Linked DNA regions of Homo sapiens: region 1 is linked to region 2. The links come from fine-mapping of genetic effects on gene expression. A gene starts in region 2. The other region holds a variant in brackets. All regions are shown on one strand. Distances are between the middles of the regions.

What was found. PIP is the estimated chance that this variant, and not a neighbour inherited with it, causes the effect.
Region 1: its variant is the best candidate, but not a certain one, in a credible set for the expression of XKRX in nasal epithelium (TOPMed, PIP 0.53).

The regions. Positions count from the first base shown.
Region 1 is chrX:100,878,321-100,883,700 of GRCh38, reverse strand. No RefSeq gene overlaps it. Among named protein-coding and RNA genes, the nearest start is that of NOX1, 6.7 kb to the right of the region's middle. The variant C/T (reference allele first, on the strand shown) is at 2,735.
Region 2 is chrX:100,926,327-100,931,706 of GRCh38, reverse strand. XKRX (XK related X-linked) reads left to right here and starts at 2,790. Exons shown (of 3, transcript NM_212559.3): 1 at 2,790-3,737. The coding sequence starts at 3,403. RefSeq lists enhancers at 2,144-2,193, 3,387-4,586.

The sequences.
Region 1 (5,380 bases), 48 kb after region 2:
CAACCGAAATAGTTCCAATGCATTTATCCACAGCACATTATGCTGATGGTAGGGACTGTACATTGTCAACCTTTAGCTCTGAAAACTTGTGACTTTATCTTCTTCTTCTTTTTTTTTTTTCTCGAGACGGAGTCTCGCTTTGTCACCCAGGCTGGAGTGCAGTGGCGTGATCTCAGCTCACTGCAACCTCCGCCTCCAGGGCTCAAGCAATTCTCCTGCCTCAGTCTCCCAGGTAGTTAGCTGGGATTACAGGTGCCCGCCACCATGCCTGGCTAATTTTTTGTGTTTTTAGTAGAGATGGGGTTTCACCACGTTGGCCAGGCTGGTCTCAAACTCCTGAGCTCAAGTGACTCGCCCGCCTCGGCCTCCCAAAATGCTGGGATTACAGGTGTGAGCCACTGCACCCGGCTTATCTTCTTTCCCAGGCAGAGTAGTCAGTTCAGAGCCAGTAAATATGGTTGCAGGAAAGTCTTTTCTTTACCATCTGTATTACTTTCCTATTGCTGCTATAACAAATTACTATAAACTTGGTGGCTTAAAGCAACACACACTTATTATCTTATGGTTCTGGTTGTCATAATTCTGCATTGGGTCTCACTGGGTTAAAATCAAGGTGCTGACAGGGCTGCATTCCTTTCTGGAGGCTCTGGGGGAGAAGTTCCAGCCCACATTCCTTGGCTCCTGGCTTCCTTTCTCTATCTTCAAAGTCAGTAAGAGTGGGTCATGTTCTCATATCTCATCACTCTGACTTCTGTGTCCCTCTTCCATTTTTAAGGATCCTTGTGATTACATTAGGCCACCCATAGAATCCATAATAATCTCCCTGCTTTGGGGTCAGCTGATTAGCAACCTTAATTCCACCTTCATTCCCCTTTGCCATGCAAGGTAACGTATTCACAGGCTTAGGATGTGGACATCTTTAGGGGGCTATTATTCTGCCTACCACACCATCACATGACAAATGTTTATTGAACATCTACTGTGCATAGAGAGCTTTGTGCTCTGCCTTAAGGAGCAATCTGGATAAGATAGGACTTGCTCAGAAAAGGGTAAATAACAATGGGAGGTTTCACAGGCTATGAGAGAGGTAAGAAGATGAGGAACTCATGCTATGTCATGCTATAAAAATTGGAAGACAGTGTGGTATGATGACTGAGGTGGTCAGAGAAGACTTCCTGGAAGAGGCAGAGCTTAATCGGTCTTCAAGAAAAGGCAAGAGTTGAATATTGTTTCTGAGCTGAATAAGTCTCACATATACACTTTTGAGGGCAGATTTCCAAAGTAGCAGATGTAACATGAAAGTACTCATTGCTATTCTAGTGATGTCTCCATGATACTTACTGGCCTAAAAATCACTGTTATACATACCAGCTCATTTGATGCTCACCACAGCCCTGTGATGGAAGTAGGGAGAACAGGGAACTACATAAACCTTTCCATCATTGAGTCCCCAGGCCCCTTTCCAGGCCTAGGGCCACCCCCAGTGTTCTTTCTTCCTTATGGCCATGGGGATACCACCTGTTTTCTTCTTTGGTAATTACTCCCCAAGCCTAGCTGCAGAATGAGACACAAACTCTGCACCTTCCCAGTTTCTTGCTACTATTGAAGCCAAGCACACAGGCTCATTTAAAATTTGCTAAACTCTGGAGAAAACAGGGTAAAACCGACGGACATAAGGTAGTGACAAAAGTTTCATAATCTTACAAAGTTTGTATAATAATGGTCTCTGATCTATAGTTTCTGCTCCCCTTTTCAATAGCAAAAGAAAGTACCATTGAGTTTAGGTCCTCTGCTTATATTTTCTTAGGGCTCATCATCATCATCATTATTATAGCAAGCAACTATGGAGTGCTTTTTATATGTCAGGCAGTGTTCTCATTGCTTTCCATACTTTAACTCATTTAATTCTTATAACAACCCATTTTATGGATAATGAGGCAGGCTTCAAACCTAGGTAGACTGGCTCTGGAATCTATATCTAACCAGTACACCATACTGCTCTACCATCTCTTCCGTACCACCACTTTGCCTTCTGCCTATCAATATAGGCTACAATTTGAACACTTTCTCCATGAGGGATCAGTACGCTAGGTTACAGATGAAGAAACTGAGGCTGAGCAAAGTTAGACTTTTCCAAGGGAGCATTAATAGTGAGTGGGGAGCTGGAGGTCAAATCCAGCTCCATCATACCATATTGCCTTTACAAGGTGCTACTTTGGTGAGGTCTGGTTCTGCTCCAACATAGTAAAAAGAATTGATTTCAAATAATTCCACATGTATCAGTCCCTCTTATCATTATGGGATGTTTCATTTTTGGACGCTGTAATCAAGACCAAATTAATACCTTTAAAGGCTCTAAGATTTAAAAGAAACAAATGGGCCAGGCGCGGTGGCTTACGCCTGTAATCCCAGCACTTTGGGAGGCCGAGGCGGGTGGATCACGAGGTCAGGAGATCGACACCACAGTGAAACCCCGTCTCCACTAAAAATGCAAAAAAAATTAGCCGGGCGCGGTGGCGGGCGCCTGTAGTCCCAGCTACTGGGGAGGCTGAGGCAGCAGAATGGCGTGAACCCGGGAAGCGGAGCTTGCAGTGAGCCGAGATCGCGCCACTGCACTCCAGCCTGGGCAACAGAGCAAGACTCCGTCTTAAAAAAAATAAAATTAAAATAAGTAAATAAATAAATAAATAAACGAATGTCCTCCCAACACCATCCTCTATGGATTCAAATTAAA[C/T]GTAATTATAAACAATAAAATAAGTAAAACAAACTATCATTTTCCCCATGACTACTTAAATTTTTGTTTTTGAAAACCAACCATCAAATTCTTTTATAAATTCTTAAAATAATTCTCAAAACAATTTTTTCTGATGTCCTAAGCACATGTTTAAACTGTTAAGTAATTCAACACTCTCTGTTATATATTAATTCCTGGAAGAGGTGTACAAGAGTTGTAACTGTAAAGGCAAATTTGGGACAAATGAGGACAGACACAAGTGATCAGGGAGAAGACACAACATGCAGGTCAGGTAAGGGCTTTGTGTTTACAGTTTGCAAGAATCCACCTACCATGGGTGGGATCAACCGTCTACAGGAAATCTTTCCAAAAGACTGCAGTCTATGGTAAAACTGTGAATAAGTTACTGATGACATTTAAGTACTCCCTAGAGATCTCCAGGAAGCAACCTCAAATTTAGTCAATGCCGCATAATCCATAAACCTGGGAAATGCAAACATTAAGACAGGTGAAGCAATACAGGGTGGAGGGGACTATTATAATGTCTAGAGCCAACAGAAGGAAAGCAATTCTGGGAGAATTTACAAAAAAGGGAGGTTGATGGTGAGAAGTTTTGTTTATTTATTTTAACTTATTTTTATTTTACTTTAAGTTCTGGGATACATGTGCTGAACGTGCAGGTTTGTTACATAGGTATACATGTGCCATGGTGGTTTGCTGCACCTATCAACCCATAATCTAGTTTTTAAGCCCTGCATGCATTAGGTATTTGTCCTCATGCTCTCCCTCCCCTTGCCTGCCACCCCCCAACAGGCCCCAGTGTGTGATGTTCCCCTCCCTGTGCCCATGTGTTCTCATTGTTCAACTCCCACTTATGAGTGAGAACATGCAGTGTTTGGTTTTCTGTTCCTGTGTTAGTTTGCTGAGGATGATGGTTTCCAGCTTCATCCATGTCCCTGCAAAGGACATGAACTCATTCTTTTTTATGACTGCATACTATTCCATGGTATATATGTGCCACATTTTCTTTATCCAGTCTATTATTAATGGGCATTTGGGTTGGTTCCAAGTCTTTGCTATTGTAAATAGTGCTGCAGTAAACACACACGTGCATGTGTCTTTATAGTAGAATGATTTCTAATCCTTTGGGTATATACCCAGTAATGGGATTGCTGGGTCAAATGGTATTTCTGGTTCTAGATCCTTGAGGAATCACCGCACTGTCTTTCACAATGGTTGAACTAATTTACACTCCCACCAACAGTGTAAAAGCATTCCTATTTCTCCACATCCTCGCCAGCATCTGTTGTTTCCAGACTTTTTAATGATCACCATTGTAACTGGCGTGAGATGGCATCTCATTGTGGTTTTGATTTGCATTTCTCTAATGACCAGTGATGATGAGCTTTTTTTCGTATGTTTGTTGGCCACATAAATGTCTTGATGGTGAGAAGTTTTTAGTGTGTCCGGCATTGCCCAAGAGAGGGAGGTTTCAGATTTGGGGCATGGATATTTTAGTTGAATTTGCTGGTGTAATCTTACCTTGAAAAGGGCCAAGTGAGTTTGCTGCTGCAGCTTAATAGTAATATTCCGTTAAGATCATCTGACTATCTTAGCTCAGATTCTGTGATCACCAGCTTATCAAAAGACTTCCTAGTACTCTGATATTGGGAATGGGGGTCCTACCTCACAGACATAAGGGTCCAATCAGCATGGCATATATAATTCTTTAGATAATACATAAATTGTCATCCAGATTATAGATCATTCTTTTATGAATCACAGGATCTCAATGTTGGAGTATATTTAAGGGACATTTAGTTAACCATCTACCTGGTGCTGATATTCCCCTTATAAAAAGCTGACAAGGGGTTGTCCATTTTTCCTTGAGAGTCTCAAGTAATAGGAAACTCATTACCTCTTTACTTCTCTGAATACCCGTGTTGGAAAATTCTGCTTTATATTGAAAAAAAATTGTGTTACTTTATTTATTTTTATTTTTATTTTTTGACACAGAATCTTATTCTTTCGCCCAGTCTGGAGTGCAGTGGCGTGACCTTGGCTCACCACAACCCTCGCCTCCTGGATTCAAGCGATTCAAGTGCCTCAGCCTCCCGAGTAGCTGGGACTACAGGCATGCACCACCATGCCAGGCTAATTTTTGTATTTTTGGTAGAGATGGGGGTTTGCCATGTTGGCCAGCCAGGCTTGTCTCAAACTCCTGACCCCAGGTGATCTGCCCGCCTCAGCCTCCCAAAGTGCTGGGATTATAGGCGTGAGCCACCATGCCCAACCTAAAGTGTGTTACTTTAGAGCCTCTATTCCTTGGTTGACTCCTTGGGTCACATACAAAACAATCTAAATCTTCTTAAAAAAAATGTAGATAAACTCATGTCCCCGATAAACCTCTTTCCAGGCCAAATTCCCTACACTCTTTAAATCCTCCTAATATAGGATGCTTTCAACTCATTACATCATCTTGGTCACCCTTCCATGGACAGGCTTTAGTTTCTCTTTTAATGTGTGGTCTTGGGCACGGGCAAGTGTTTTTGTAAAATTTACAAATGTAAAATATTTTCATTGCTAGTGATTGACTGTCTCTTACCACTCCAACTTCCCTCTGTCACACTTCCCCTCAGGTCAAGT
Region 2 (5,380 bases):
AACAAGTGCCACAATAAACAGTCATTGAGCATCCTTCCCTCACTAACTTTACATTTTTGGGGGGAGGCAGGACAAACACAGAAATAGTTGAAGGACTAGTATGAGAGAGCATGTGCCAGTAGCATGAAGAGAGAAAAATGAGGGTTGGGGAGGTGACAGAAGGCTTCTTGGAGGTGGGAGCACTTCGGCTGACCCTTGAAAGAAAGTTATGGTTTGGACTAATGGAGAAAAGGGTGAAGGGGGTTGTAAATCGCATCAACAAGGCAGAGGTGGGAGTGAGCAACGCAAATAGGAGAAGTGAGAAAACTGGCTGGCCTTGTGGAAGGAGTAGTGTGGGCAATAAAATCTGAGAGGGAAGTAGTGTGATGATTATATAGAGCCTTGAATGACAGACAGAAGGAGTCATTTTGGAACAAAGTAGGAAGGCATTGTAAATTTTTGTATTTGGGGAGAGACAAGGCCATGGAGAAGAAGGAGGAAAGGCTAAAAGGTAAACGTTGGGATTCTACATTCTTCTTCTTAGCTTTACTCTCCCATGTTTTTTTTTTTTTTTATTTTTAATTTTTATTTTTTTGAGATGGAGTTTCACTCTTGTCACCCAGGCTGGAGTGCAATGGTGCTATCTTGGCTCACTGCAACTTCTGCCTCCTGGGTTCAAGGGGTTGTCCTGCCTCAGCCTCCCGAGTAGCTGGGATTACAGGTGCCCACCACCACGCCCAGCTAATTTTTGAATTTTTAGTAGAGACAGGATTTCACCATGTTGGTCAGGCTGGTCTCAAACTCCTGATCTCAGGCCATTCACCCACCTTGGCCTCCCGAAATGCTGGGATTACAGGCATGAGCTACCGCGCCCGGCTGACTCTCTCATGTTTAGGGGGACCAACTCACCCTATCCCAGTGAAATGGGATTAATTGGTCACCTTGCCTGAGATTCACCTTGTGAACAGTTACCTAGAGCAGCCCCAAGAGGTTCTGCACCATATACTGGTGGTGGAGAACCTTGTCCCAGTTGGAATGTCCCAACTAATAAGAAAAAGAACACTCTCTGAAGTTGTTCTCAATAGTGTTGACCTCCTTCATGAAATGGAAAGGAGAAAGGAGCAGCCTCCTAGCCCAGCTGCTAGCATAGGTGCAGACCAAGATGCGGAGTCTGCTTCAGAAGGTGACAACCTTTAGATGTTGAATCTGTCCCTGAATCAGCCCTGGGGAAAGGAGGCAGCAATCATGGAAACCTTAAAAAAACAAAAAACAACATAATGACAGGACAACCTGGAGGCCATTATTTTGGTGGCTGCTACTTGGCCACTCCTCACATAGATTTGTTTTACTGACTTCCTGCAGCAAAAGGAGATTGGCACAGGCTCTGCTACATAATCATCATTATTATTATTATTATTATTATTATTATTATTATTATTAAGACGTAATCTTGCTCTGTTGCCCAGGCTGGAGTGCAGTGGCGTGATCTCAGCTCACTGCAACCTCTGCCGTCCGGGTTCAAGTTTTTCTCCTGCCTCAGCCTCCTGAGTAGCTGGGATTACAGTCACGCACCACCACGACCAGCTGATTTTTGTATTTTTAGTAGAGATGGGGTTTCACCACGTTGGCCAGGCTGGTTTCGAACTCCTGACCTCAAGTGATCTGCCTGCCTCAGCCTCCCAAAGTGCTGGGATTACAGGCGTGAACCACTGTGCCTGGCCTTCATCTATATTATTACCAGGAGGCAGATGTGTTCTCTTTTTCTCTGAGGTTTAGAATTATGCAAATGAAGATATGAAAACAAAAGCTCAGTGAGGTGGGGAGGATTACACTTAAGAATACAGGTAATTTTCAAAGCTCTTTAAGACACCCCTCTCAGTTTTTACTAACAGCTCTCTCTTGGCTCTTTGCCAGTCTGTTTAGAATTTGGCACCTCTTCATAACCTTTCAACCAAAGACCTGTAAGTTCATTCTAAAGCTCCTATCCTGGCCTCATTTTGCAAGTGGAGAAATCAAGGCATAAAATATGAGCTTTCAGTGTCTGTGGGCTGACCTTGAGTCTTGACCTTTATCCTGTTCTATCTTCCCTCCGCCGAAAACTCTGACCCTATTCCTCCCAGGTTCCCCCTTCATGATATTATCTGGAGGGCAATAGGACCTAGGGAGGTTCCACCCTGCGGCGGAGGGAGACACACCTGCCTAACAGCGTGGGTAGAGTGAGTGTTGAAGCAAGTCACTTAACTAGTTAGGGAGGGCGGGGTAGAAGTGGGGGCCTGCTGCTCCTAGGGAGGAGTAAAGCTGTGGCTCCTGCCTGGGTCTGGAGGTGGTGGTCAGAAGTGCTTCTGAAGAGCGGCCCAAGCCCCTTTTTGTCCCGCCACTCCACAACGAGCATCCCTCGGCTGGCCGCCTGCCCGGGAACTCTCCGGCTGGTTTTGTTTGGCCGCAGCCGTCCCGCCCATCTCGCCCGCCCCCGCCGTCCCGGTGCCTTAGTTTTTGAAGCTGCCGACCTCTCGCAGCTGGAATCGCAGACCAGGCAGGACCCTGGCAGCAGACGGCGTCCAAGAGTTTGGCGACCTCCGTCCAGCCAGGTTGGCGCCCCGCACATCGTGCCTCTCACTAGCAAAGTTTCTCCGAGGAGAAGCAGCCCCTCCAGCCTTTTCTTCATCCTGTAGAGCGAGCGCGCTCTGCTTCTGTCCCTCAACACTGCATTCGGAGACAGGGTGGTGACAATACTCCACTCCCGGGCCAGGCGGTCTTGGGGGCGGGGCTTGGGGGAATCCGAGGAGCTATCCTGAGAACCCTGGACTCGGCAAAGGTCCTGAGAGCGCGCAGGTGAGCGGGCCAGCTGATAGCTACAGCCTAGCAATAGCTAGGATACCTAGGCACTGAACTGAATCCCCTCTTCTGCCCTCCTTCTTCTGCGCCCGCTCTTCTGCCCTGGCTCAGCTCTCCGCTGACTTGAGAGGACACACTGGTCAGGACTCTTTGTGAGGAGCTGCTGAGTGTCGGTGCCCCCGACAGATCGGCTACACCCTGCCTGAGGGGCTGCGAAAGGAGCCGCCACGGAAGCCGCTGTTCTCATGACTCTTCACGTCCCTGGAGTTGGACTCTGGATGGGGCGCTGGGATGCTTGCTTTTGTCTTGTTCAAGTTTCACAGCAAGTATGTTGACGATTGGAATCGGGGCCAATCAAGAGTCAAGTTCAAAGTGGTACTCCTGGGCTTTCCATCCCAGACTCCAAGTCGAATCTGAGTCTAGAAGAGAGCGGTTTCTTGCTCTAACTAGTGAATCTCTGTTCCCAAACTGGACTTGACAGAGCTCTCCTCACCTATACTTGGACTGTAGCGGCCATAGGGTTCTCTTGGGGATGGGTGGGAGGGTGCTATGAACACAAGACCACAACATTCAGAAAGAACCTCGACAATGGACAGAGTTTATGAAATTCCTGAGGAGCCAAATGTGGATCCGGTTTCATCTCTGGAGGAAGATGTCATCCGTGGAGCCAACCCCCGATTTACTTTTCCATTTAGCATCCTTTTCTCCACCTTTTTGTACTGTGGGGAGGCTGCATCTGCTTTGTACATGGTTAGAATCTATCGAAAGAATAGTGAAACTTACTGGATGACATACACCTTTTCTTTCTTTATGTTTTCATCCATTATGGTCCAGTTGACCCTCATTTTTGTCCACAGAGATCTAGCCAAAGATAAACCGCTATCATTATTTATGCATCTAATCCTCTTGGGACCTGTTATCAGGTGAGCAACTTTTAAATCTTTTCCTTACCCCCCTAACCCCACCCCAGACTTGGGCAGAGAAAGATGAAAGATTTACAAGATGGATACTATGGCTCTAATCAATTCTCTCATTTCCTCCCACTCTCGGCTTCCCTGTCTACCATTCAGAAAACTTACCTGAAATCTTAAATGCCACCATGATGAACATGTGGTATGTACTTGTGTTCCAAAACAATGAACGATGCTATTTGGCCTGTGTAAACTAGAATGGGAACAACAAGACGTGATCACCCTGTGCATGAAGGCCATAGCTGCAGAGTGTGTAATTTTATTTAAAAAATTTTTTTTTTCTGAGACAAGGTCTTGCTCTGCCTCCCAGGCTACAGTGCAGTGGTGCGATCATGGCTCACTGCAGCCTTGATCTCCTGGGATCAAGCGAACCTCCCACCTCAGCCTCCAAGTAGCTGGGACCAAAGGAATGTGTCACCATGCCTGGTTAATTAAAAAAAAATTTTTATAGGCCGGGTGTGGTGGCTCATGCCTGTAATCCCAGCACTTTGGGAGGCTGAGGCGGGTGGATCACCTGAGGTCAGGAGTTCAAGACCAGCTGGCCAACATGGTGAAACCCCTGTCTCTACTAAAAATCAGCTGGGTGTGGTGGCGCATATCTGTAATCCCAGCTACTCTGGTGGCTGAGGCAGGAGAATCACTTGAACCCGGAAGGTAGAGGTTGCAGTGAGCCAAGATCGGTGCCACTGCACTCCAGCCTGGGCGATAGAGTGAGACTCCATCTCAAAAAAAAAAAAATTTTTTTTGTAGAGACGGGATCTCGTTATGTAGACTGGGCTCAAGTGATCTTCCTGCCTCAGCCTCCCAAAGTGAGCCACCGCGCCTGGTCTGAGTGTGTAATTTTGACTCTACCTTTTGGATGCTTTGTAAATTGGATAAAAGTTTCTTTACCCTGAGCTGCTTGGGCTGGTGCTACTGCCATTTTCAAATTTTCCAGAGTAATGTGACATCTGGAAACTATTTTAAACCATCTGTGGTAATCTGTACCCCAACCCAATATAGTTCAGTTCTCTGTCGGTTTATCAGTTTCCTATTTATCTCTTTGTATATTTCTGCAATAAAGATACGAAGTTGGGAGGGGGCAAAGGAAGGCAGTTCATCTCTCTATGTGGATGCAGTAGCACAATTTAATAGTATCAAGTATTTCCATTCAGATTGCCTTGAAGTGGAAAGAATGCACTTAATCCTAGCGAGATAGGCACCTGTGTCAACAGTCTCATCTGGATGCTATGGGGTTTTCAAGGTAGAGAGATGTTGCAAAACTTATGAGTTCAGGAGTAAGGAATGGACCAAGTTTGTCTTGATTGCAAGAGAGGCAGACAACTGCAGTCAGCCGAGGAATATGGGTCAGAGTGTTGCAATGGGAAGATACCTCATCATTAGACAACTAAAAAGTCTGTGAAACTAATTAAGGATGGAACTCACTCCTTTATAAAATTTCATATCTGTACACATGTATAATTTTTATTTGTCACTTATACCTCAATAAGGCCAAAAAAATTTTTTATCAATAAATTTTTAAGTGGGGAGGAATCGATTAGGCTCTATCAGAGAGAATATGGGATATCAATGGAAACAGTGGCCTGAAATTTGGA